5 separate regions of the Homo sapiens genome follow, and all the other regions are linked to region 5. Evidence: fine-mapped expression QTL. A gene starts in region 5. Each other region holds a variant in brackets. All regions are shown on one strand. Distances are from middle to middle. Region 1 overlaps VAV3 (vav guanine nucleotide exchange factor 3). Region 2 overlaps VAV3 (vav guanine nucleotide exchange factor 3). Region 3 overlaps VAV3 (vav guanine nucleotide exchange factor 3). Region 4 overlaps VAV3 (vav guanine nucleotide exchange factor 3). Region 5 holds the start of VAV3 (vav guanine nucleotide exchange factor 3).

The links.
Region 1: its variant is fine-mapped to the expression of VAV3 in whole blood (TOPMed, PIP above 0.99).
Region 2: its variant is fine-mapped to the expression of VAV3 in blood mononuclear cells (TOPMed, PIP 0.95).
Region 3: its variant is fine-mapped to the expression of VAV3 in whole blood (INTERVAL, PIP 0.95).
Region 4: its variant is fine-mapped to the expression of VAV3 in NK cells (Gilchrist 2021, PIP 0.95). The same link has a PIP of 0.9 or more in monocytes, monocytes after LPS, monocytes after interferon gamma and monocytes after triphosphate RNA.

What each region holds. Positions count from the first base shown.
Region 1 is chr1:107,819,997-107,824,996 of GRCh38, forward strand. The region is part of intron 2 of VAV3 (vav guanine nucleotide exchange factor 3); the gene reads right to left. Among named protein-coding and RNA genes, the nearest start is that of MIR7852, 75 kb to the right of the region's middle. The variant T/C (reference allele first, on the strand shown) is at 1,980.
Region 2 is chr1:107,783,250-107,788,249 of GRCh38, forward strand. The region is part of intron 2 of VAV3 (vav guanine nucleotide exchange factor 3); the gene reads right to left. Among named protein-coding and RNA genes, the nearest start is that of MIR7852, 110 kb to the right of the region's middle. The variant A/G (reference allele first, on the strand shown) is at 3,044.
Region 3 is chr1:107,839,713-107,844,712 of GRCh38, forward strand. All of the region lies in intron 2 of VAV3 (vav guanine nucleotide exchange factor 3), which reads right to left. Among named protein-coding and RNA genes, the nearest start is that of MIR7852, 55 kb to the right of the region's middle. The variant C/A (reference allele first, on the strand shown) is at 2,518.
Region 4 is chr1:107,567,585-107,574,245 of GRCh38, forward strand. VAV3 (vav guanine nucleotide exchange factor 3) reads right to left here. Exons shown (of 27, transcript NM_006113.5): 26 at 6,463-6,614; 27 at 3,577-5,788. The coding sequence ends at 5,747. Among named protein-coding and RNA genes, the nearest start is that of MIR7852, 330 kb to the right of the region's middle. The variant G/A (reference allele first, on the strand shown) is at 3,659.
Region 5 is chr1:107,962,995-107,969,440 of GRCh38, forward strand. VAV3 (vav guanine nucleotide exchange factor 3) reads right to left here and starts at 2,186. Exons shown (of 27, transcript NM_006113.5): 1 at 1,672-2,186. The coding sequence starts at 1,875. It overlaps VAV3-AS1 (VAV3 antisense RNA 1), which reads left to right and starts at 1,449. Exons shown (of 3, transcript NR_046653.1): 1 at 1,449-1,510. RefSeq lists enhancers at 1,197-1,326, 2,673-2,967, 2,903-2,972.

The DNA of each region.
Region 1 (5,000 bases), 140 kb before region 5:
ACACTGTTGGTGGGAATGTAAATTAGTATAGCCAATATGGAGAATAGTAAGAGGATTCCTCAAAAAACTAAAAATATAACTACCATATGATCCAGCAATCCCACTGCTAGGTATATACCCCAAAGAAAGGAAATCAGTATATCAAAGAGATATCTGCACTCCCCTGTTTATCACAGTACTGTTCACAGTATCTATGATTTGGAAGCAACCTAAATGTCCATCAGCAGATGAATGAATAAAGAAAAATGTGCTACATATACACAATAGAGTACTATTCGTCCATAAAAAAATGATGAATTCCTGTCATTTGCAGCAACATGGATAGAACTGGAGGACATTATGCTAAGTGAAATGAGCCAGGCACAGAAAGACAAACTTCACATGTTCTCACTCATCTGTGGGAGCTAAAAATTAAAACTATTTAACTCATGGAGATGGAGAGTAGAAGAATGGTTACTGAGGCTAGGAAGGGGAGTGGGGGGGTAGGGTGTAGGGATGGATAATAGTTACAAAAATAGAGTTAGATAGAATGAATAAGATCTAGTATTTGATAACACAACAGAGTGATTACAGTTACTAAAAATTCATCGTACATTTAAAAAATAACTAAAAGTATAATTGGAATATTTATAACACAAAGAAATGATAAATATTTGAGTCGACAGATGCCCCATTTACCCTGATGTAATTATTAAGCCTTATAGGTCTGTATCAAAATATCTCATGTACCCCATAAACATATGTACCAACTATGTACTCATAAAAATTAAAAATTAGGAAAAAACTGACCTTCATTTCTCTGATCACCCATTTTTAAAAGTCTTTCCAATCCATATACTTAGAAGAAAAAATAGGAGCTTACCACTTTTTTAATGTATAATAAGGGGCAAGTTTCTTTAATACCTATATAACCAAGAGAAAAGAATGCAAACTGCCTAATGACCTAGATGACTGAAGGTATAAAAAGGCAGCTGACAGTATAAATCCACTGTCTTATGTGAGTCATATATTGAGAGGTACCTCTGACTCATGAAGCTGTCTCTGGAAAAATACAATATAAAAAAGCAAGCTCCTCACTTTAGATTTACTATAGAAGAAGATATTATAGAAACATTACTAATCTTGTTATTCAAGTTTCTTAAATAATCATTGTTGTTATCATATCCTTAGAAGACAAAATCCTGAAGACAAACTATTTTCAGACACCTAAGGAAAAACATAAATGTTATAGCATGTGTATTCACTGATTTGGCAAATAAGTGTTGATTGTTCAGAACTATGATAGACATTAAAATACAAAAAAGAGTAAGAATGTCCTTCCTCATGAAGCCAAAAATGGGAAAGACAGTAAACAAAGATATAAAACAATTATAGACAATAGTTCTGTGAAGAAATTCTTCTTGGTGCTGGGCCAATGAAGGAGGGAAAACCCAACTCAGATAGAAGAAGCCTCTCTAAAAACGTGTCATTTACACTGTGACATAAAACCTTCAAAGAGAAGGGGCCAGTCATGTGAAGATCGTGAACAATCCAGGAAGAGCACCAGCAAAGTAAATGACTCAGAGGTGGGAGAAAGTGTGTGGCGTGTTCTAGGAGCTGGTAGACAGCTGACACGTCCACAGTAAAATGGAAGACAGAGGAGGTTGGAGGGGCCAGGACATGCATGGAAAAGCCAAAGACAAGCTTCCAGCTGGGGAGTGCACAGTGTGAGATGAACTGTTAGAGGATACTTTGGCTGCTCTATGGAAATAGATTGCAGGAAGGCAAGAGCAGGAAAGGGAGACCTGATTAGTTAGTAATGTAACCGAAATGCAGGTTTCCTCACTCTCCGCTTGCAGAGTCCAATTAACAAGAGCAAGGTCTCGTATAAAGAAAGTGATTTATTCCAAAGCTATCTTAGGGGAAGAAGTACAGGTGGCCTGCCTTTAAGTGTACTGCTTTGCTTTTGGAGCAGAAAGTGGGCACTTTTAAAGAGAAAT[T/C]GCATGCAGGGGAGGAAGCCGGGGATTGGGGTCCTTATGCCAGCTTCAGTGCCTTATCTACTGACTGGTTGAGCTGGTGACTGCTGGTGCCTTTGTGGGCAGGACTAGGGCAAAAACTCACCAGGTGGGAGAGAGCAGCAGGCATACTTTTTGACTGTTATCTCTTGAGGCAAAACTCCTGGTGGGTGAGAGTTCCACAGTGGGCATGCTTTGGTTTGTAAATTGTTAACTCTGGAAGAGAGATCAATCTTGGAGCCCATGGTTAGAAGAACTTGCCCTGTAGGGAATGTATGGTGAAGGGAAGGCAAAGGGTTATATTTGCATTTCCAAAGGGATAAGTGGGAAGTAAGGAACTGGAGGAATGAGAAAAAAGAGGGGAAAAAAAAATAATTAAATGGGCTGGGCGCGGTGGCTCATGCCTGTAATCTCAGCACTTTGGGAGGCCAAGGCAGGCGGATCACGAGGTCAGGAGATCGAGACCATCCTGGCTAACATGGTGAAATCCCGTCTCTATTAAAAATACAAAAAAAACAGCCGGGCAAGGTGGCGGGTGCCTGTAGTCCCAGCTACTTGGGAGGCTGAGGCAGGAGAATGGCATGAACCTGGGAGGTAGAGCTTGCAGTAAGCCGAGATCGTGCCACTGCACTCCAGCCTGGGAGACAGCGAGACTCCATCTCAAAAAAAATAAATAAATAAATAAATAAATAAATAAATAATAAAAAAATAATTAAATGATCTCTTCGAAAAAATGGGGGTACTTGGTTACTGTAATAGTCCAGGCAAAAGATGATGTTGGCATGAACTAAAATAGTAGCAAAAGAGGTTCATTCCTTCTATAATAATTATGTCTTGAACACCTACTACATACCAGGCACTTTTCTAGGTAATATGGACATGTGAAGAGTGAAGTTAACAAGACCCTTCCTTGTTCTGTTAATATTACATTCTCAAAGGAAGAGACAAAAGACAAGTAAGCAAATAAACAGGCCATAAAATTTTGGATGAGAGAATACTAGGAAGACAATAAAACAAGTTGATATAATAGGGAAGACTGTGGGAATGGATATTCAGAGTTGCTACTTAGGCTGAAGAGACAAGAAAAGTAATATTTTACCCACTATCCAATCGATGAGAAAGCGCTTCAAAGTCCAAAGGAGAAGGAGGAAGATGGAAAAATTCAAGATGACTCTTGAAGACAGAATCAGAAAAACTTGCTTACAACAGTGATGACAGACATGAGGGAATCAAGAATAGTGTCCAGGTTTATGATTTTAGAAACTGCAGATAATGATTCTTCCATTTTCTAAAATGAAGGATGGGGAAGAAGCACATATATGAATTTTGAAATTAAGTGTTCCATTTTAGACTTACTAAATTTGAGTTCAGATGAGATGTGCATTGACTGTGAGTCTGAAACTTAGGGAAGAGACCTACTGTGCAGATTAAAATCTGGGAGAACCTGTAGAGAAATGATAAGTGAAGCAATGGGAATGGCTGAGACTCCCCACGTGGGCTGGGTAGCATTAAAAAAAAATAATAAAGATTAGAATAGAGCCTGTGGAACTCCAAATTTTAGAGATCAAGCAGTGGAAGAAAAGCTGAGCAAAGAGACAGAAGAATGGCCAGTGAGGTGGTAGGAAAGTCACGAGACTGTCTGTTAATGGACCAAATGTTTGTATCTCCACAAAACTCCTATGTTGAAGCCCTAAACCCCAGTACCATTGTATTTGGAGATGGGCTTTCTAAGAAAGTAATGAAGGTTAAATGAGGTCATAAGGGTGAGGCCCTGATCTGACAGGATTAGTGTCCTTATAAGAAGAGAAGCCAGAGAGCTTGCTTGCTCCCTGTTAATGCCCATCCATTGAGGAAAGGTCATGAGAAGACATAGTGAGGAGGTGGCTATCTGCAAGCCAGGAAGACAGCTCTCCAAGAAACCAATTTGCAAACACCTTGATCATGGACTTCTAGCCTCCAGAGCTGTGAGAAAATAAATTCTTGTTGTTTAAGTCACTCTAACTGTGGTATTTTGTTACGGCAGTCCAAACAGACTCAACCAGTGTCATTGCAAAGCAGCAGAGGAAGAAGGTTTCAAGAAGCAGGGAGACGTGAACTGAGTAGAAAACTGGCAAACAGCTGATTAAGATGAGGGTAGAGAAGTGTCCCAGTATACAGAATATAAATTTCATGAGTGATGTTGATAAAAGTAATTGTAATGTGGTGATGGGAACAAATGCCAGATTGGAATAGACTGAAAAACAAAAGAGATGGGATAAAGTGAAGATGCACATAGCGTCGCTATTTCAAGAAATTTTTCTGAGAAAGGGAAATGAGAATAAGGTGATAACTAACGGGGGAATATGGAAGCAAGGAACTTCTTTGTTTGTTTGTTTGTTTTACAGTGAAGGAAACTATTAACACATGTGTATATTGATGAGGATGGCCCCATACGGAGGTTCAAATGGATAATGACATGTACATTTTCAGAACCAATGTACAAGGTATTCTGCTCAGTACTGAAAAGGATCCACAGATAAATACGGCCAGCCTTCTGAGGAAGTAAGCAGAACCCCAAACAAATAAAACAACCTACAGGTGTTCCTTAATTAAAAATACTGGAACATATACACTATCTATATCTGTACTTCCAGCAAGAGGACATTTTATGTATGCAGCATTTTCAGTTAAATAAAACATTTAACTGAATGTTAAATTCAGTTAAAATATTTCAATATATTAATTGTAAAAGGTAGTATGGCTCAACTATAAACATATATAATGTATTCCTTATAATCACTAGTAATAACTAAGTGGTTAGTCACAATGATTTACTAGGCCCCATGCAGAATCTTATTAAGAATTAGAAATAATATAAAAATATAAAAAGCAATATTAACCAAAAGAAATAGAAGAACAGGAACACTATTTTAAGAGTAAAAGAACCCACAGATGCTGAAGAAGGTAAGAAATCTAGGGTCCCATTATTCGAAATGAGGTGATCCCATATGTCTCTAAACTAAAAGT
Region 2 (5,000 bases), 180 kb before region 5:
GGTCAAAACTGCCTTTTTAAAGCAAAGTGAAGGGCAGACTGGGGTAGAGGACATAGGGAACAGAGAAGGGGCCAGGAGACCAACTGAGGGGGCTGTCTCAACCACCCAAGTGAGAGGTGAGGCACTGGAACCAAGATGGCTGCAGTAGACAGGAAAGTAGTGGAAATGGGAGGAGTGTTCAGGAATAGTAGCTGATGCTCTGTGAGGGCTAAGGGAAGAAGAACCCAGGATGACCTGGGCTAGCTGTTAAGGCTCTGGAGGTGGACAGCCCCAAGGCCGCCTACCAGAAAAGCCTCCAGGATGCTTCCAAGCAAGAAGCCCTTGTTCTCTCTGTGTCTTCTACATGGTGGACATGTACCATCCTGAACCCAGTGAGGCCACCCACTCCTCCACGGAGCCTTCTCTGGCCCATGGTCTGTGTCCCCTTTGTGTCCCCATAGGACCCCGGACATAACTCCACCGTAGCATCTATCACCTCATTTAAAATGAAAATTTATTGGCTTTTAAAAATATTTCAGGCCAGGCCTGGTGGCTCACGCCTGTAATCCCAGCACTTTGGGAGGCTGAGGCGGGCAGATCACGAGATCAGGAGATCGAGACCATCCTGGCCAACACAGTGAAACCCTATCTCTACTAAAAATACAAAAAAAAAAAAAAAAAATTAGCCAGGCATGGTGGCGGGCACCTGTAGTCCCAGCTACTTGGGAGGCTGAGGCAGGAGAATGGTGTGAACCTGGGAGGTGGGGCTTGCAGTGAGCTGAGATAGTGCCACTGCACTCCAGCCTGGGTGACAGAGCAAGACCCTATCTCAAATATATATATATATATATTTCAAAAGAATACATGTTTACTTTGTCAGGCTGAAATAATACAGTAATACATAAAAGATGCCCTTCACACCTCTCCTCTCTCTTCTGCCTAAATGGGACCATAGCTAAAAATCTGGTATGACTCTGGCAGAGTTTTTCTTTTTTCCTTTGCTTTATTAAGTAATGTATTCCTATTATACAGATTTTTCTACAGCATGCTTTTGTCATTAACAATAAAGCAGAGTCATGTCATATGTATACATCTACTTTATTCATTTTAGTGCTGTGTAACATTTCAGTGTATATAAACAGCAATGATTTAGCCATTCTCTTGTCAATGAGCTTTTTCAACATTTTTCTGCAAAATCTGCAATTATTTTTCTCGCCAAAGATCTTTTCAATTATGTGCAGATTTTGCTATAGGAAAGATTTTTAAATGGGATGACTAGGACAAAAGGCATGATATTCAATATATTTGCATAAATATTGCTTCAATATGAAAAATATCTGCATAAATTTAGACACCCCTGAAGAGTATATAAAAACATAAGCCGTGCCAGTGATCTGTTCATTGGTCTTTCAATCTGACAACGGAAAATTTCTTAAGGGCAGTAGAATCAAAGTGATTCTTCACTGTTGTATTTCCATCACCTAGTTCACAGACAGGCTCACAGCAACCACTTAACACAAAAATATTTCTGGCTTAAACAAATAAAAGAGTAATACCTTGCTAAATTGTTTTAAAGATTAGGGATAATAGGTGTCCAGATATGTAAAGGGCTCAACCTGGCACAAGTGGAGAATGAATAGTTGAAGAATCCATTGTGAAAATTAAACATTAAATATGAGACAGTGTTGTCTATTTACTCAAACCTAGAGCCAACAAACATACTGACATGTTCCCCTATGAAACATTTTCAACCAATGATGATTTTTATTTTGTTTTAGCTCTTTATTTTTTTCATCCCTTAGTTAATTTAAAAACCACAAAATAAAACAGCTTTTGAAAACAGACTGGTGATATTGTACACTGATAAAACTACCCATTTTAAACTATTCTCTTCATGAGACATTCGGGCAAATGTCCACTCTTTGCTTCTCTAGCACATTAGTGCTGTTGATGTTATTTGTAATTAAAACAAGTCATCTAAGCAGGAGCAGTATGTTATGGCTACCTTTAAGGTCCTGAGTTAAGAAAGGCACAGCCACAGTAACCAGAGGAAGCCATGAGACCAACATGTAGGTCTGCCAAAAAGTTGCTAATTAATTATGGATTTATCTTCTTGAGTTCTCTATTCTGAAATCTCACCACTTAACCCATACCAGACCCAAAAGGAAAGGCCGGGTTCAGTAACAACAACCTGGGTTCAAAAGGAATTCCGAGGGAAAGGGTACTTACAGGGAGGTGGGCTCTGCAAGGGCAATCAGGCAGCTGCATGCTAGAGCCCCAAATGCAAGACGAGCTTGGGGGTTCAAGAAGGGGTCCACGGCATCACACCCCTACAACATTAGGTTGCTATCTAGCAGCAGAGGCTCAAGGCACAGATGTTGCATCCTGGTTTCTGAAGGATCAGAGCAAGTGCCCTGTGGGGTTGTGGAGAAAAACTTGGGCCCCAGAAGAGGGAACTGGGAGTGTGGGCATGAGTGCTGGGTGGAGAAATTCAGACAGAAGCATAGTCTGTAGACCAGGTCAACTGCAAGCTAGAGGCACCCCAGAGACCTGATACTATCCAGGCATCCCAGACACCAGGTTATCTGACAATTAGGTCTAATTCTAAACCAGACCAGATGGTAAATTTCAGACTAACAACATGTTTCACCTTAACTCTCCCAGGAAATCAACAGAACTCATTATCATAATTTTCTTCGAAACTCTAATTTCACACAGTAAATTACCCCCATTAGGATACACTACAGCTTAGTGTCACTTCCAGCAACACATCTTAGGGATTTCCTGAAGCACCTGCTTGTTGCTTTGATCTGTGGGATGCTGTTGAAAAATGTCCTTAGCACCTCCTCTATGGGCAAAGCAAAGCAGTACAGCCAGATAAGATCAACAAAACATTTCTATGTCAGGAAGACTGTAAACTATGGGAAATACATTTCCATTGTTCAAGAGAGTAGAGTATCTATATAGGTTAAATGGATCCAAATTATAGTTTGTGCTGTCCTTGGTAACAATCATAAATTTAAGAAGTATTCTATACTTACTATTTTTTGAATCTTCAAAAGTG[A/G]AACTACAGAGAACAAGAACTTCCTTTAAAAAAAAAGCCATATACTGGGCTGATTAGAAGTGCAGGCTCAGAAGTCAGATTTTCTGGGTTCAAAGACCAGCTCCATCTCTTACTAGCAAGGTAAGGACGGGAGTCAAGATGATCAAGGCTCTGTGCCTTAGTTCCCTTACCTACGAAATTACAATTAAAACATCACTTATCAAACAAGTTTACTTTCAGCGTTAAAGAGGTGACAGACAGACAGATATATGCACATAGAAGAATGTCCTATACTTCTGCTGCTATTTCTAACGTCATCATCACCTTTGTTGTCATTGTCATCATCCTCATCATCATCGGTAAAGTCAGATTTGGTCTTTGTAAAGTACTTCAGAAAACAAAATGTGAGTGTGACCTCACATAGAACTGAAAGAGTTCTAAGAAAGGATAGTACACAGGATGGGCTCAGAGAAGCCACACCTCTCTACTCCAAATAAACACAAAAATCTGTGTAACTAGGGTGTGTTTGTTCATAGCAATTTCCAGACAAGTCCTTTAGCTGAATGCCTATACCCAGGCCCCACAACTCTATCTTACAAATTCTAGAGATATCATGTTTTATTCAGTGGTTATTATTTTGTTATAGATCCCTTTGAGAGTATGATGAAAGCTATCACTCATTTACTCAAAAAATTAAACCCACCTATCTACACACACACATACACACATACACACACAAAAACACATATAAAGTCTGCATCTAATATCAAGAAATCCAGGGACCTCTGAAGGACCATTTATGGACTTTCCAGATTCTCACTAAATCTCTTCCTTTGCCTATCAGAATACCATGGCCCAGAAAAACTGGCTTGCTCCAGGTTAAACAACTAATAGTAGCAGGGTTAGTACCAGGTCCCTTTTCTTCTGTCCTGGTTATTGCTCTTTCCACTTCACTACCCTTTCTATAAGTTTCTTGTATTTACTGAACACTTCATTCTGTGCTAGATACACCAGACACACACTCCAAAAGCTTCAGGGAGCAAAATGAGGATACAATGCTTCCTGCTCTCAAAAAACCAACAGTCTATTAGGAAAGACCATAACAATGAAGGGTACTGAGGGAAAACACAGACTAGTATGACAAGCAACATCTGAAGCCCAGGGGAGACAGCAAGGCCAGTTGCACCCCTTCGTGGGCAGAGGGAGCTAGAGGGGTTCAAAGGCATCTTTAAAAGAGGTGATCCTAGTCTGCATCTTGATGGGCACCTGGACATTTGCCAGACTCTCTTTCTTCAGGTTGATACAGGTTTGATGGGCAAGAATGACCAGTCTCTGGCCCACCCCTCTCATCATCACATCGTACTCCAGTGAGAATACTTGTGTATTCTAAGTAGATTCACTTGCACCTTATTCTCTGAGAAGCTTTTTGTGGTTGCCATTTTCTGAATGATATATTTCTTATTTGATTAAAAGTGGATATTTTTCAGATTCTGAGAGAAAGAAGGTCATTGAGCAAATTTTTTCTAAAGCAAACAGGACTGCACTTGCCTCATTAGGCATTTCCGCACCACTATGGTCCTGCCGTCTCTGCCTTCTTGACCTCAACACTCTGCCTCTGAAGACCCCAAACAGAGCATCTTTTCCTCCTAGCCTGCTTTTCCTCCCCATTCCCAATGACCCCACAATCCCACTCCTCTCCTTCACCTGGCCAGACATTGGGGAAACTTTCTGGAAGTAAGTGCCAGGTCTAAATCCTATCAGTCAATTCATCCTTTTCAGACTCTCTCAGATCCAATCCCTTCTCTCCTCCCATGCCTCTGCTATGTCTCGGCCCTCTCTATTTCTTGCCTCAATTATTGGAATAGCTTCCAATATGTCTCCAGGCCTACAATTTCACTCCCTTCAATTTCATCCTCTACTTGGCTACCATAGAGGTTGTATGACATTTCAAAACTATTAATGTGATCATACCACCATT
Region 3 (5,000 bases), 120 kb before region 5:
TAGGAGGAACCAATAAAACCAAAAGATGGTTCTTTGAAAAGATCAATAAAACTGATAAACTTCCAGCTAAGCAAACCAAGAAAAAAGAAAGATGACACAAATTGCTAATATCAGAAATAAAGGAGAGATCATTACTACTAATTCCATGGACACTGAAACGATAACAAGGGAATACAATGAACAACACTATGCCCACAAATTTGATAACTTAGGTGAAACAGGCCAATTCCTTGAAAGACACAAACTCACACAGGAGAAATAGATAATACCAACAGACCTGTATCAGCTAAAGAAGTCGAATTAATAATTAATAACCTTCCAAAAGAAAACATCAAGCCCAGATGGTTTCACTAGTGAATTCTACCAAACGTTCAAGGAAAATATAATCCACAATTTCTTCCAGAAAATAGAAAGAATACTTCCTAAAGTTCTCTATAGAAACTTGTAAATGTTTTGCTGTTAGCCTGTAAATGTTGTAATGTTGTAAATGTAATGTTGTAAATGTTGTAAATGTTACAGTGTTAGCAGTGTAAATCACTGCTTTAAATTCAATACATAAAAAGTTGGTGCTTCAATATGCTAGAAAGCATTTAGGTCACTTTTTACTTGCTACAAAACAACATGTATATTTTAAAGTTGTGCAAAGACCTTTCTTGATTGGCACCACTTAAAGACAAGGTAGTAAAGGAATAGGTTATCAAAGGATGTTCATTAATAAAGTGCCTTATTCTAGACAGTCCCTGCACTTTAACAGATATAAACATTTCCCTCTCAGCCACAAATGCTCCATTCCAGAGCATTTAACCATTGGCACACATGCCAAGGGTCTTGCTTTGATGACATTTCATTGTCTATTCATATTTCACAGCCTTTCTATGATCAATCCATCAGGAAGTGCTCAAAGTTAACGTTCTTAACGTGCCCTAAAGAAACGTAAAGGAAGCAACAAAAGTTAAGTCAGGGGTTCTGGTCAAGGCAGGAAAGGAAAAAAAGTGACTAGGAACAAAAAGTAGTTGATACAAAGGAAAAGAAGAGGAGAAAGCACTGAAAGCATTTTAAAAATAAAAGGCAAACTGTCTAGTTGGCAACAGACCAAGATATAAGTACAGCATATTTCAGAGACTCCTAAAAGCAAGTGTGAAGAACTATAAACCACTGGAAGGAAGTGAAAACTCTGAGCAAGGGATCAACATGTTCAGAGATGCTTTTAAAAAAAAAAAAAATTCATCTGGCAATCAAATAGCTTATACGGGAAGGCTGGAGGCAGTGAGACCACAATGAGACTACTGCCATGGTCTTAGCTAGAAGAACTGAGGTTTAAGCTGACTGACAGCAGTGTGGTAGGGCAGAGTTGGCCAGTACCAAAGGGAGACCACTCAGGGGAATGATGATGGGAGTTCCATTATATACACCAATAGTGAATGCCATATGGTCTTAAATTCATTCATTCATACACTCAGAAAATACTAAGCATCTTCTATGTGCAGTACTGTTCTAGGATATGGTAACATAGCAGTGAATACAGCACAAAGTTCTTGTCCTCAACAAAGTTCATATTCTGGTGTATTTAGGGGAAAGGGGGGGGTAGAAAAAGAAACAATTTTAAAAGTATAAATGGTATATCAGCTGTAATAAGAAATATGGGGAAAAAAACTAAAGCAATATAAAGGGCACAGAAATTGTCAGAAGGCTGAGGAGAAACAGTAGCGGTTGCTATTTTGTTTCAAATGTTCAGAAAAGGCATCTATAACAAGGATATTTAAACAGAGATCTAAAGGAGGTGAGAAAACAATCTTTCTCCACTCCATCACTGCTTGTGGGTGCCATAGATCAAGCTATAAACATGCCCCAATTTAAAATAGGTATCATTAACATACAAAAACACAAAGTAAAAGCATTAGATAGGGCACACTTTAACTGCGATGGGAAGTAGAAATAAAACACATTTTAGGATTCAAGTATTATTTTTCATTTATTATGCTAAAATGACTAAATGACTGTTCCTCTCTCTAGGTCTGAGCTGTCCATCACTTTAGACACTTGAAATGAGGCTAGTCTAAATTGCTATGTGCTGTAAGTGTAAATACAAACTGGGTTTGGAAGAATAAGGAAAAAAAACAGAAAATATCTCATTATACTTTGTGTATTGATTACATGTTTAAATGATAATTGGGGTGCGTTGGGTTAAATAAAATGTATTATTAAAATTAATTTTTCACTTTTTAAATGTAGCAACTAGAAAATTTAAAATTACATGGCTTGCATTTATGGCTCTCATATTTCTATTAGACAGCATTATTCTAGTTTCACTACCTAGTAATAAATTTTTCTATACTACCATTGCTCATGCCCCAAATTACTCAAAAACAAAAATCAATTTAATAAGAATATTAAAGAGAATACTGAAAAACAATTTCTAGCAAATGTTTACCTTCATACTTATATTGTCTACCTAGTACCTCCCTCTTCTGAGTGTGGAACCCCTCTTCTTTAAGACATTGCTTTAAACATTTAGTT[C/A]CCAAATTCTAAAATGAGTCCACTACCTTGGACATAGCTGAATGGCAAGGGAAGGGAGTTGCGAGATGAATAGCTAAAAATAAAAAGCACTCTGCACTGTTGGCCACAGTTGAGTGGCCCAGGAGTGAACAGCTGACTCAAGGTGAGGCAACTGCAGTCCTTCCCACTGATTTTTAGTACCTCTGAATCATTTTGTTTCAGGTGTGTCTCTTATAAACAGTGTATAGTTGGGCCTTTGTGAGCCAAACTGGAAATTGTTTCGGTACTTCCACCCATCTGGTGAACTTCTGTGGCAGTAGTTTCACTTTAATCTTTGGCATCTCTTTTCTCTCCCATGCAGCTTTTTAAACTGTTCTTGTTCACAGCAAAGGTTTGAGGCAAGGTATGAGAGATAGCTCAATGAGATTTCATTCTTCTTTTTTTTAAAACTTAGTTAATTTGAAGTTTGGGTGTCCTTGGTTTTCTGGTTATGCAGGGGGTGTCATTTTTACGCATTTTAATTTTTCTTCTTGTTCTCTATCATATGTAGGATATTTTGGGAGGGGGCACAGACTTAGGCAGATATCGTTATCTGTCTAGAAATTTCTCCCGATTTTTATAACCATAGCTAAGAAACAGTCTCTCCAATGAGAGAAATATTAACATAATATGGAAATTAATGATGGTTAATTTCATTAATATGGAAATATTAACATCAAGTGTTCATATTCCTATCATGAGGAACTTTATCTATGATGAGAGCAGAAGCAGACCTACTGAGAAAAAAGTAGAGAAAAAAGACAGACAGAGAGAATGCTATTTGAATTCCTGGTTCCACTTGTTCCTGAAGTCCACCTTTACTCCGCCCTTCCCAATAGTTTGGCTGTTCCAATTTATCGTGAAACCTATGAGTCAAATTCTCCACATTATGCTCAACCTAAGGCATAATGCTCCTGGGTGGGCATTATAACTGACAGCTCTGGAATCAGGCTACTTGGATTTAAATCCTGACTCTTAAACACACATCCTGAGTAAGTTTCCTATAAACCTTTGGTGCTTCAGTTTTTGTATATATAAAATAAGGATGATAAGAGTACCTACTAATAAAATTGTCATTAGAATTTGACTAGATATGTGAAGCCCTTAGCACAACACAAATATATATATATATATATATATATAGTTAATAAACATTAGTTATTATCAGTTCTAGTGGTAGCTCAAATTGGATTTCTATCACAACTCTAAATGTTCACTAATCATCTATAGACTTTTGTCTTAGAATTACACTGTTGAGATTAAAAATGTATGTGTGCGTGTGTGTGTGTGTATATATATATATTTATATATATATATATGAGGAAGGTGGTTCAATTCACTAGCCATCTGCTGAAGTATGAGCAGGCGTATTTAAACCTCCACATTACCGAGGAATATTCAGAAGGGGCTGGAACATAGAAAGCCAAACTTCATCCCACACTGTCTGCACCAAGTTTTTTCACCCTCTCCCCCCATGGGGTTATTCCAGACTGATAAAATCAGACACGGAAAAATGCATTTTTGGGGGAGTCTTTTGCCTGTTCAGTTGTGACAGATAATCCTAGGATAAAACGTACCCCTACAGAGCGGGGAGCTTTCCACTGTGGGGGTTCAAAGAAGATGATTCTTCCTGGAAAAGGGAGAAGAGAATGAACTTCATGACAAAGAAACAAAACTGGAAACTGAGAAGTATTCATGATGAAACTATCTTATATAAGACATAACTTTAACTAACCTATAAGAGACTTTAACTTTTAAAGTTTTCTTCCTGGATTCTGGGCAAGATGGCTGAATAGGAACAGTTCCAGTCTGCAGCAACCAGTGAAACCAATGCAGAAGGCGGGTGATTTCTGCATTTCTAACTGAGGTACCCAGCTCATTTCATTGGGGCTGCTTAGACAGTGGGTACAGCCCACCGAGGGCAAGCAGAAGCAGGGTGGGGCATTCCTCACCCAGGAAGTGCAAGAGGTCAGGGAACTCCCTCCCCTAGCCAAGGGAAGCCTTGAGGGACTGTGCCACGAGGGACGGTGCTATCCGGCCCAGATACTATGTTTTTCCCACTATCTTCGCAACCCAAAGAACAGGAGATTCCATCTGGTGCCTACACCACCAGGGCCCTGGGTTTCAAGCACAAAACTGGGTGGCCATTTGGGCAGACACTGAGTTAGCTGCAGAAGTTTTTTTTCCGTACCCCAGTGGTTCCTGGAACACCAGCGAGACGGAAACATTCACTCTCCTGGAAAGGGGGCTGAAGCCAGGAAGCCGAGTGGTCTTGCTCATCAGATCCCCTGCCCATGGAGCCCCATAAGCTAAGATCCACTGGCTTGAAATTCTCCTTGCCAGCACAGCAGTCTGAAGTCGACCTGGGATGCTCCAGCTTGGTGGGGGAGGGAGGCTTGAGTAGGCAGTTTTCCCCTCACAGTATAAACAAAGCCTCCAGGAAGTTCGGACTGGGTGGAGCCCAC
Region 4 (6,661 bases), 400 kb before region 5:
AGGACGGTGATGAACTGATACAAGGTCTAACAGTCACGTAATGTTAATATGTCAAAGAGAAGTGATAAAGATACCAACGGAGTTGGCTCCTCAAATAATGGATTCAGGGCTGTATAACCCACTGTATCGTAATGAAAATAAGAGGAATTTTGTGTTTGTAGCAAGGTTGTGATGGTGAAGTCAAGCAGAAGCTACCACCATGGCCTTTCCTGGTCCTTAGAAGGAATGAAGTGATTCCACCCTCTCCCTAAGACAGACTCCATCACTGTGGATTATCAGCTGGCCTGCTCCACCAAGGGAAACTTGACTCCAAGCCTCTCTGGATTAGCAGCCATTTTCTAGTGCAAGAGTGAATCAAAGTAGAAACGAAAATTCAATCTGATACTAATCTCTCTAGGCAATATCTTTTTTGGGTTTTCTTTTAGGTGGCAGGAATAGTGGCATATTTCTGAATTCTGTGTTAACCTTTCATTGTTCAAACCACTGTTTAGTATCGTATAGTTTCTTCTCGGTTATGTAAGTTTAAAAATGTACGAAATCTCTCTCTTGCCCTACAAAGTGTGGCAGGATAGGGTAGTGGTTATACGGACTCTGGAGCCAGACCACCCAAGTCAGAATTCAGCTCTGACACTTAGCAGCTGTGTGACTTTGGGAAAGTTGCAACCTCTTGATGTACCTCAGTTTCCTCATGTGCAAATGAAAATATTATGGGGTTCTACCTTTGGGGGTTGTTGTAAGTTGGTGCAAATAAAGCACTTAGAACAGAGCATGGCACATGGTAAGCATGCCAATACATGTTATTGGCAACTATTGAGTTTACCTTGTAGTTCACTGTTCATAACTTAGGCAGCAATCCTGAGCTAAACTTAAACAAAATTAGGGCTTAATCCCCATGTTAATTATGGGGCTGGTGTATGTGTGTTATGGGACTGTGGGGCCTGTCAAGATAGTCCTTCTAAGGTAAAGGGTAAGTTGCTGCATTTGGCCCCTCCTACAACCAAGAAAGAGGCACAATGCCTAGTGGGCCTATTTGGCTTTTGGAGGCAACACATTCCTCATTTGGGTATATTAGTCCTGCCCAATTATCAAGTGACCTGAAAGGCTGCCAGTTTTGAGTGGGGTCCAGAACAGAAGGCTCTGCAACAGGTCCAGGCTGCTGTACGAGCTGCTCTGCCACTTGGGCCATATGACCCAGCAGATCCAATCGTGCTTGAGGTGTCAGTGGCAGATAGGGATGCTGTTTGGAGCCTTCGGCAGACCCCCATAGGTGAATCACAGTGGAGGCCTCCAGGATTTTGGAGCAAGACCCTGCCATCTTCTGCAGATAACTACTCTCCTTTTGAGAGACAGCTCTTGGATTGCTACTGGGCTTTGGTGGAAACTGAACATTTGACTATGGGTCATCAAGTCACCATGCCACCTGAATTGCCTATCATGAACTGGGTGCTTTCTGACCCATCTAGCCATAAAGTGGGTCATGCACAGCAGCATTCCATCATCAAATGAAAGTGGTATATACGTGATCGGGCTCGAGCAGGTCTTGAAGGCCAAGTAAGTTACATGAGGAAGTGGCTCAAACGCCCATGGTCTCTACTCCTGCCACCCTGCTTTCTCTTCCCTAGCCTGCACCAATGGCCGCATAAGGAGTTCTCTATGATGAATTGACAGAGGAGAGAAGACTAGGGCCTGGTTCACAGATGGTTCTTCATGATATGCAGGCATCACCCAAAGTGGACAGCTGCAGCACTACAGCCCCTTTCCAAGACATCCCTGAAGGACAGTGCTGAAGGGAAATATTTCCAGTGGGCAGAACTTCAATCAGTGCACCTGGTTGTGTGATTATATACTGATACGTGGGCTGTAGCCAATGGTTTGGCTGGGTGGTCAGGGACCTGGAAGAAGCATGATTGGAAAATTGGTGACAAAGAAATCTGGGGAAGAGGTATGTGGATGGGCCTGAGTGGCCAAAAACTGTGAAGATATTTGTATCCCATGTGAGTGCTCACCAATGGGTGACCTCAGCAGAGGAGGATTTTAATAATCAACTGGCTAGTATGACCCATTCTGTGGACACCACTCAGCCTCCTTCTCCAGTCACTCCTGTCATCGCTCAATGGGCCCATCAACAAAGTGGCCATGGTGGCAGGGTTGGAGGTTACACATGGGCTCAGCAACATGGACTTCCACTCACCAAGGCTGACCTGGCTACAGCCAGTGTTGAGTGCCCAATTTGCCAGCAGCAGAGACCAACACTGAGCCCTCGATATGGCACCATTCCTTGGGGTGATCAGGCAGCTAGCTACCTGGTGGCAGGTTGATTATATTGGACCTCTTCCATCATGGAAAAGGCAGAAGTTTGTCCTCACTGGAATAGACAATTACTCCAGATATGGGTTTGCCTATTTTGTATGCAATGCTTCTGCCAAGACTACCATCCGTGGACTCACAGAATGCCTTATCCACAATCATGCTATTCCACACAGCATTGCCTCTGTCCAAGGCACTCACTTTATGGCTAAAGAAGTGTAGCAGTGGGCTCATGCTCATGGAATTCACCATCATCCTGAAGCAGCTGAATTGATAGAAAGGTGGAATGGCCTTTTGAAGTCACAATTACAATGCCAACTAGGTGACAATACTTTGCAGGGATGGGACAAAATTCTTTAGAAGGCCGTGTATGCTCTGAATCAGTGTCCAATGTATGGTACTGTTTCTCCCATGGCCAGGATTCAAGGGTCCAGGAATCAGGGGGTGGAAGTGGAAGTGGCACCACTCACCATCACCCTAAGTGATCCACTAGCAAAATTTTTGCTTCCTGTTCCCGCGACATTCTGTTGTGCTGGCCTAGAGGTCTTAGTTCCAGAGGGAGGAATGCTGTGGATATGGGTACAGCCGGGCGCGAGATTTACACCCTCTCCCCCGCACTTTCAAGGGCCCTCCAGAGCTCACCAGATGCCGCTGGAAGCGCGACGCTTTCCAAGGCGCGGACCCCTCTCTCCAGGCGAACCCAATTCCAGGGCGCCCTGCCCTTCACAAGGAGAAAAGAACTCTCCCCGGGGCTTCCATTGGCTTCTCTGGGATCCTTCGCATTACTGTGCTGGACGCTTGGCAGTGTCCATCTCCGCCACTCCGGATTCGGGATCTGAACCGGACTCCCTTTCGATTGGCTGAGGGCAACAGAGGCCATCGCCTGTCCATTCAGAATGGCGCTCACCTATTTCTCAGGACCGAATGACCCATGTCCAACTGCTGTTCACATGGAACCCTTCTCCACTTCGGCCTTTGAAGTTCTCTTTAGAATATGTGCTACTACCACCAACATCTGCACCTGCGGCGGCTCTGCCCGGGCCCAGCCCTGGGCTTCAAGACTCACCGCAGCGGCCCTCCTACTAGACGCATAGCGTCCACGGGGCTGGCGGGCGGGGGGGTGGTGACCTCCACACATACACTGCTTCTGTTCACTCTGGACTGCTGGCGATGGCCTGGTACAGGCCCAACAATCCAGTGCCATCCATTTTCAGGGGAACCCTGACTAATACAGGGATCATTCAATAAAAAGACTCCAACTCTTAGAAATCAATTTAGTCACTATTTATTATATTGACATATTTACAAAATAATACAAAGTGAAATACCACTCTAATTCACCGTATTACAC[G/A]AGGGCTGCATACAGGCAAGACAAAGTATATGGAAAACATTTACTTCTGTCTTTGGTATTAGAACTCTACACAAATCTGCAGCATTTAAATTTTCCAAAACAAAGTATTAAACGTGGACAAAGATGTAATTGGTAATGTCACAAAAAGGGGCTCCAATATCCTCTGCTAGGAAACCCCCAGGCCCATGAAATGCAACAGGAAGACTAAACACCATTTATAAGGAGAGGGTCTATTGACTAAAATAAACAATACATGCTACAATACCATCCACAGGAGTGTTTCTGCTTGTGTGAGGCTGCTCCCTCCATAACAAAGTTCGGCTGACGGCAACAGACAAAACATTCCCGAGACAGAGTCGCAGATAAGACTTTACAGGAAAGAATCCATTCCAAGAGTACACTTTGAGGTGTAACTTTATTGTACAGAACATTTTATAAAATACATTTTTGTGATCATTTACACATATACAAAGACTTAAATGGTTTTAGCAAATAATAATTTTTCTAAAACACAATCACAGTTTACATAATTCTGAGGTAAAGGTCTTGAATCTATCCTAGATGAAAAGTCCTAGCCCATGAGGGTCTCTAACAGGGGGATGTGTCCACTGAACCTTGAGTTCTGGCACCCAGACGGATTGATGAGAGGGCAGGCTACACCTGCTTCATTTCAGAGATGATTCAAAATTTCAGAACTTAATGCTCCTGGTTCAGTTCTACTAAGTTAATGCTTCTTTTTTTTCCCAACATGTAACTCTCTCAGTCTTGTCAGAACACAACTTCTGCTATGGAGGAAATATTTCCATCAGGAAAGGGCCAAGTTAGTGTCTTAACTTGACTGCCTTGAATGGGGACTCTGGACCCCAGGAAGAATGTATTTAGGCTCCTCACAAAAAAGAGTGATGGCTGGGCAAAACAAATGTACTGCAAGACCCATCTTCCCTCCAGTTAATACACTCCCAGGATGGGCTGCAGAGGGGGAGACTCTGAGAGAAGCTGGAGGCCCACAAAAGTCCACTGACCCTCTTTCTGTCCCAGAAATGAATAAAGGACCCAGTTGTGCTTTCCTTCCAAAATCCTCAACAAAGTTGTTTGTGCTCCAAGAAAATGTGGGAATAAAAAAATCATGTCCCAGGTCATCTTTGTGTGTGTGCGGGGGAGGTGGATGGGAGGAAAAGGCATGTATTAATAGATACTGCTGCTATAAAATGACATAAATTATAGCCCTTGATCTGTTTCTGTAAACAATGCCAGCTTCTTCAGGTTATTGGCAACTACCCTTAATATACCTAGCCCAGATCCTTTCATAAAGTCAAGTGCTATATTTCCAAAATAATCCTATGAAATCATGAAGGTTGTGAAGGTTTAATATGAAGACACCCTCTCTTTTGTGTGCTTTTTTCACCTTTTATAAAGAAGTTTGCAAATATAATCAGGACACCAAATAAGTAATTAAAACCCTTCAGGGATAGCTCACTTATGATGCAAACCTGAGCACTGGCCTCATATTTTATAATATCATGAGTAACATCTGAGGGTAAAAGTGTTTGCCGGGCAATGAGTCACCTTGTTGGACAATTTAAGACAAGTAAGGCTGGATCTTTCCAGTAAGCTGCTCAAATGGCAGAACTCCAATTTTTCGTCATGCTGGGAAAAGGAAAATTACACTTCTGCTTCTTTGTACCATCAAATAATCTGGTGAATGGCATGTGAGAATAAAGCAAAAGTGTATTAAGATTTACTGATGACTGGCATTCATGGTATCTGACCAGAAGAAGTAAAGGGAAGCACGAACCAATGTGTTTGCAGGGCTCTTCTGGGAAGAACAGCTCTTGGTTTTGCCCTGGTCCCTGACAATGACAGACTGGCAGGCTGTTTCTTGCACAGCTCTAGGCAAGCCATTAATCTGTCAGTACCAGCATCTTTAGAAATCTCAGCATTAAGACTTAGGAGGGGCTAAGGAGGGAGGATGTTGAACAGCCAGAAATGCAGCTTTTTAAACACTTCAGTTAATTCACGATGCTGTGCAGGCTTCTATTTATCCCTTCTCTGAAATTTTTGGTGCAGGGTGCAACACGGGATTTGAATTTATTCATCCTCTTCCACATATGTGGATGGAAACCAGCCCACCTAAAAAAGAAAAGCAACCAACACAGCAACATGACTTTGTATCTGACACTTCAAAGGATTCTACAAACAGAGTATTTTGTTTTCATAACACCCCAATTAAACTGGGGTTTTATGTCCATTGTAGGTGAGAAGATTGGTTTAACTGCTCTTAGAAGCCTAATAGAGTAAATGATCGAAATGGAGGAATAAAATAAACAGTGTTCTAATCCACTAGCACACAAATAAATATGTAAATTAAGTATAATACAGGGGGGCTCTGCTGCATAATGATTCCTATTTCTGCTGTAGAACAGGATGAAAAGACAGAGGTACTATGTCCCATTCTTTCCAATTTACATCAGCAGTTCTTATAGATATTTTGCAATACACATAAAGTTTAGCTCTATGGCTCAGGGTCTAAAAAGAACTGAAATGCTCCTCGACTCTTTTCCAAGCAGCAAGCTGTCCCACTTGCCCAGGTGAATTTTATTTATGTCACTATCATATTCATTTCAAATATTTTCAGCGAGTCCCTGGTATCAGCAAAACACAGCACCAGTTTCCAGAGGGCAGAGGCCTGTGGGCTGAAAGCTGTAATACAGTATAGAGGCTTCTCCCTGGTGCCACAATGGGTGCAAACAACTGCTCAGTCCCCTTCTTTCACATGCACCAGCACATCGAGAGGGCCAACTTACCCTGCCATTTACTTCTCCTCTCCACCAGCCATTTGCACTCATCTTTGTGTAAATCTTCACCACATCTCCTTTCAACAAGGACAACTCTCTCATATCTCTTGCACAGAAGTCATACCGAGCGATGGCAATGCCCAGCACTTTTGGACTTAACACTGTCAAGAAATGACAAGCAATGACAGTAGGTTTGCAGTTCGTTAAC
Region 5 (6,446 bases):
TTTGGTCATCAGAAAGATTAAATTACATCTAACATAAGAGGAGAAGAGTGAAACACATTCAAAACGATTCTCATCCATTGTTAGCATTCAAATAAAGGCTTCGAGGTTTAAAAAGGTCTTCAGCTGTCCAGAAAACGTGATTATTGAGAGCAACTGCTGAGAGTTCCAGGAAACAAGTTCCAGGAAATGTGCACAGTACTGTACTCCCTACTGGTGGGCCAAGGCATCCTGACCCACGCTGCCTCCTGAGGCTACAGGCAAAGTGGAAAATGGGGATGTGTGAGAGTAGCTAACTGCAGCTCCCACCATAATAGAAAAGTCTGCCAAACCCCTCAAAGGAATTTCCAGAGTTGAGACAACTCTGAAGGGGTACCGAGAGGTAGCAATCACCATGCATGTTTATGGGGGTATAAAATAATTTACCTCACTTTTAAATACGTATGGCTCTCCCCACTTCCATGCCTGTTCTTTCTTAGGGACTGCCCACCAGCAGGTTGAAGGCAAACAGGCAAGGAATGCAGAATCTGAAGTGCAGGGGACCCTGATGAAACACTGACACCAAGAATCACAGATGACTGTGTGTGCTCTAACTTTAAATACATACTTATTAAATCATATAAAGTCCGTTCCTTCTTAAAAGGCGCTGCTCTGGTTGCTAAGTAGCTGAGGCTCTGCGTCATAGAGGATTAGTGCTGAAATGTGTCAGGGAGAGGGCTCTGTCCTCTCCCTTTTAAGTTGAAAGCAGTTTGGTTTTTTGTTTTGTTTTAACATTCTGAAAGAGAAAGAGGCTCTGAACCGAGTTTAACATCCTTCTGTACAAAAATTTTCCGACAGGACAAATAAACTACTCTTCCACTGAACTGTGACTTTTGAGCTGACTCTAGGGTGCACCCAACCTTCCAGAGGTGTCTGGCTTAACCCTCAAAGAGGCAGCTCCAGCCCCAGGAGCCGACCGGCACCACAGCACCTGAGCAGGGCACTGCAGGAAGGAAAGCGGAATCTCTAGTGAAACTTCTCATTTCCTGTCGCTGCTGAGAGAGGCTGGACTCGCTCCTTCTCACATGGCTTAGGAAGAGCTGTAAACGGGAGCTTGCCGGCTGGCCACCAGCTCAGGGGCCCTGGGGGCGGCCTCCGGGTTCTGCTCCCTGTTCTTCCCTTTGACCAATGTCACTCCTGGACAGATAACGGGACCAAACGCCCTTCACTTCCTCGAGTCCTCATGTATGTCATGGTTCCTCTTTTAGGAAAACATGAGTACAAGACGCAAAGCAAAAGAAGAGACTAAAGGCAAATTACCCCATCACCTCGTTTCGTCCCTCCCCTTCGTTATTATAGAAGAGCTTGATCAAATTCCCTTTGTCGCGCCACACACACGCAGAGTAGGTGAAGGGCACCCTAAGACAACTTATTTCTTTCCCGCCTCACAGAAAGCCTTTACGAAATCCTCACACCATCTCCGGACGCAAAGCTTTCGCATTCAGCTTGAGGAGCTAAACCATTTCAAGCCAAGGTAGGAAACGCCAAAGTGGTGCCGAAGTGGTCCCAAAGCAGAAGGCTGGGAAGCAGGGCAAGCTCAGCGCACCTAGACGTTTGCATTTACACAAAGAAATTAGCCGCATGATTAATGGGAGCTGCCGGCTGGAGGCGGGGCGCCCGTGCCGGCCTCCTCACCTGGGACATCTGCGGCCTCAGGTTGATCTCCTTCAGGTTGATGGAGTGCGCCCGGAGGTTGTTAAGCAGCTGGCAGAGCAGGACTCCATCGCGGAGGGTCTGCGCAAGGTCGAACACCTGAGCCGAGTCCCAGGTCACCCGGTGGTTGGTGGGCAGCACCTTGCAATGGATGAGCCACTGCGCGCACTGCTTCCACGGCTCCATGCCCGACGGCTCCGGGACGCGGCTGGGCCGGGGCGGGCGGCAAGGATGCGGCCGCCGCCGCCGCCGCCGCGGTTCCTCCGCGCCCCGCCGACGCCAACAGCCGCCGGCCCTTTCCCCGCGCGGGATCGAGGGAGCAGGAGCCGCGGCTGACGGGTCGCGGGCGCCGCGCTAGGCTCGGCTCCGGTCCCGGCCCGGGTGCGCCGCGACCCGGCCGCCGCTGCAGCGAGTCCCGCGCGCTCTCCGTGCGCCCCGGCCGGCTCGGCGGCGGCTGCCGCGCACAGGCTTCCGACTCCAGCGCCCGGCCCGCCACTGAGCATGCCCAGCACGCCGGCCGGTCTCGCTGCGGTCCGCAAGTCCCCAGACGCGCGGGTGGGAGCGCGCCGGCGGCCGGGGCTGGGGTCTGTGGCCGAGGGCGGGGCGCGGGGGAGGGGCCGGCGGAGGGGGGCGGCGGCCAGAAAGGGGATCCCGCGCCCCCGCCTGCAGCCTTGCGGGGCTCACGCAGCCCCCGGCGTCCTGGGGTCTTCTCTCGGGGCGGCTTCCCGGCTTTGCGGGGAGTGTGGCTGAATACTGTAATACGATGGGGTCCCCCAGGACCCCCTAAACAACAAATGCTCAAAGGAGCGACGGATTAATTGGGGCACCCAGACTCCCCAGAGCAATGAAAAAAGTGCCTAGAGCATCAGTAGAGCACGGCGCTGAAAGTTTTAGAGATCGTCGCCCCCTCGCCCCTTGCAGCTCTATCCCCTCCATTCTCTATAGCTGATTCCTCAGCCTATTCCTCCTAGTTGCCCCTAGTGGTGTTTTGGCACCCTCAAAGTGAGTGAGAGTGCGTGTGTGGAGACGCCTGCGGAAACCGCCCCGATCCCTGAGCCTATTTCCTCGCGAGGTGATTTTCACTTGGAGCTGGTTTGCCCCTGCACTGTCAGGCTCGGAACTGTTTGCCGTTGCTGTTCTGGCCCTTTTGCTGACCCCACAAAAACCTGCTTGAGAAAGGCCTGTGCCACGGTGCTAGACTGCGCATGCGTCGGCGACTGGCGGCCGGGTTTGAGAGCAAAGCGCGTTAGCCCTGGGCAGCTCCTGCCGGGCTGTTCTGGGATCCTTAGTGAAAGTTGGAACTTGACCCCAGAACTTTTGCGCAGTGCACAAGCAGTGCATTCGTGTTTCTTAAGTAAATCTTTTGGAGACTCTAAACCCTACCCCTTTTACTCCCACTGCACACTGCCCCTCAAAACCACAATTAATGTTTAAATTATTTGTGGCAAGATATTGCCACAGTGAATTATTGCTGTTCGATAGGAATGTGGTCCTTCGTCACCCTTTTGAGATGCATTCACTTAAAATTAGAAAATAGGCCGGGCGCGGTGGCTCACGCCTGTAATCCCAGCACTTTGGGAGGCCGAGGCGGGCGGATCACGAGGTCAGGAGATCGAGACCATCCTGGCTAACACGGTGAAAACCCGTCTCTACTAAAAATACAAAAAATTGGCCGGGCGTGGTGGCACGCACCTGTAGTCCCAGCTGCTCGGGAGGCTGAGGTAGGAGAATCGCTTGAACCCATGAGGCGGAGGTTGCGGTGAGCTGAGATCCAGCCACTGCACTCCAGCCTGGACGACAGAGCCAGACTCTGTCTCAAAAAACAAACAAACAAACAAACAAAAAGATGGGAGTTTGGATAATTTAATTGTATTATATTTCTGTAGCCCAAATTTTTTATTACGAACCATGCTTTATAAGCAGGCCAAAATATTATTTTTAAAAGAATGATCTGTTCAGGATAGTGATTGCGTCCTTTTTCGTTTGGCTGTGACAAGGATAGCACACTGTTTACACTCAGCGCTGAACAATAAATCAGCCTGAGGATTTCCTTTCCTCACACGCATCCTTCCCTAGCAATTTCCTCTTGTGTTCAATGCGGATTCCATCAATAGCACGACATTTTCTAGGCCATAATTTTGGCAAATAAATCATACTAATCTCTACATACCTTTAGAAGCAAAATCCAACACATTTGAATCACCATTTAACACAGTCTTTCATAAAGAGAAATTAAAAAGAAATTTCATTAAACGGGTCAAAATTTAAACTAAAACTATGAATTTTTTTCAGGTAGCATCAGATCACCTTTGGATGTTGGAGAATATTTCCAAAATCCACATTATATACACTATCCCAGGACGCAAATCTGGATTTAGAGCCCGAGCTGTACTGCTTTCTAGCAACATGACCTTGGATAAATTCTCTACAGTTCAGTTTCCATAGATACGAAATAAGAAATTTTTTTTTTTTTTTGTGGGGGGTGGACGGAGTCTCGCTCTGTCGCTCAGGCTGGAGTGCAGTGGCGCGATCTCAGCTCACTGCAAGCTCCACTTCCCGGGTTCACGCCATTCTCCTACCTCAGCCTCCCAAGTAGCTAGGACTACAGGCGCCGGCCGCCACGCCCGGCTAATTTTTTTTGTATTTTTAGTACAGACAGGGTTTCACCGTGTTAGCCAGAATGGTCTAGATCTTCTGACCTCGTGATCCGCCCGCCTCGGCCTCCCAAAATGCTAGGATTACAGGCGTTAGCCGCCGTGCCTGGCCATAAGAAGTAATTTCTAACTAATAGGGTTGTTGTCAGGATCAAATGGTACAATGTCTTGCTATTCAAAATGCAGCCTGTGGACAGCAGCATCACCCTTGAACTTGTCAGCACTGTAGACGTTTGGCCTCTACTCTCATACTGAATGAACCAGAACCTGAATTTTAAGATCTCCATATCCCATGTATTTCCATCAAAAGCCAAGAAGCACTGATACAATGCATAGAATGTGTGGTGCCTGATAATTAGAGCTCAATAAATATTACCCAATAGTAGCCACTTTTCATTAACAAGTGGCAACAACGACCAAATATTCTATTTCACTTCTCTGTATATAATATATGACTTCAAAACATAATGCTTCTCAAATATAGTAAACCACAGAGTTGATAGAAAGGCAACAGGAAAATATATGGAAGGCCTAGAAGGGAAGGAGTTTAGTGGAGACACGGGATTCTTCACGTAAACAAGGAGCTAAGTGCCAATAGGTGACTCGTGAAAGACATTTAAGTGTCAGAAATTGGTGCAATAAAAATGCAATGGGCTTCTCACCTGAGTTATCCTTACTAAAGGAAAAAATTACAGTCTTTTCCCTTTACAATTTTTTTTTTTTTTTTTTTGAGACAGAGTCTCACTCTGTCAGCCAGGCTGGAGTGCAGCAGATCTCGACTCACTTCAACATCCGCCTCCCGGGTTCAAGCTATTCTCCGGCCTCAGCCTCCTGAGTAGCTGGGACTACAGGCACAAACCACCACACCTGGTTAATTTTTGTGGGGCTTTTTGGGAACCAGCCCTTGTCCCAACAAACCACTGACCTCGGCCTCCAGGCCTGCCCTGGCTGGTCATCAGAGCAGTAAGTGAGAGCAGGAGGCAGAGGCTGGGGAGGACAAGGGAGAGGGAGTGGGGTCCAGTGCAGGGAACAGGGCCCTGTCACCCAGGCTGGAGTGCAGTGGCACGATCTCCGCTCACTGCAACCTCCACCTGCTGGGTTCAAGCGATTCTCCTGCCTCAGCCTCCCGAGTAGCTGGGACTACAGGCATGCACCATCACACCCGGCTAATTTTTGTATTTTTAGTAGAGATGGGGGTTTCACCATGTTGGCCAGGCTGGTCTCGAACTCCTGAACTCAAGTGATCCGCCCACCTTGGTCTCTGAAAGTGCAGGGATTACAGGTGTGAGCTATCGCACTGACCTCCCTTTGCAACCTTAAAGGAAATGTTCCACCTAGTGAAGGCAAGTTGGGAAATAGGGACCAACTCATCAGTGGCAACTCCTTGCTAATCCTGGTACCTAGTGTTCTTGCGGTGTGCAAGAAGTTCTTTCTTGCATATCTGACGTGTGACTTCAGGACCCCTCCTATGGTCCTACTGCCCTTGAGTCCTTCATAGCCCCTGTAGTACATCCACACTCTACCATTTGCTGAATGCCCACTATGTGTCAAGCACTCTTCTGGGCACTTTACATGCACTGTCTGCAAGTGAGAAGATGCTCTCCCACCCATTTTAATGAAGAAGCTAGAGATCAACAGAGTTAAGCATCTTGCTCTTTATTAGGGAACTCAATAAAAGGATGAGCTTGTGTCTCCACATCTGCGCCCCTTCTGTTCAGAGCTGTGGCTCAGCATTAAAATAATTGCTGTATCAAGCTTAATTACTGGTTTAAACATCGTTCTCCCTGCTAGACTGAAACACCTTGAAGGCAAGGGTGGTAACTCATTCATCTTCAAATTCCCAGAACCAACCTTGGTGCCTGTCACATGACAAACAATAAATATTAGTTTGGTGAGTAAATAAATGAACAAGCTATGTTAACCCTCTTGCTCTCCCTCCATCCCTCTCTGCCTTTCTATCCTGTCTTTCTGGTGGTGAAAAGATCAGGAAGGATTTGCCAGCATTACTTGTAACAGGCATAAGAGTCACATGAAAAAAGATCTGCTTTTTTCTTTTTTTTTTTTTTTTTTTTTTTTTGAGCCAGAGTCTTACTCTTGTCACCT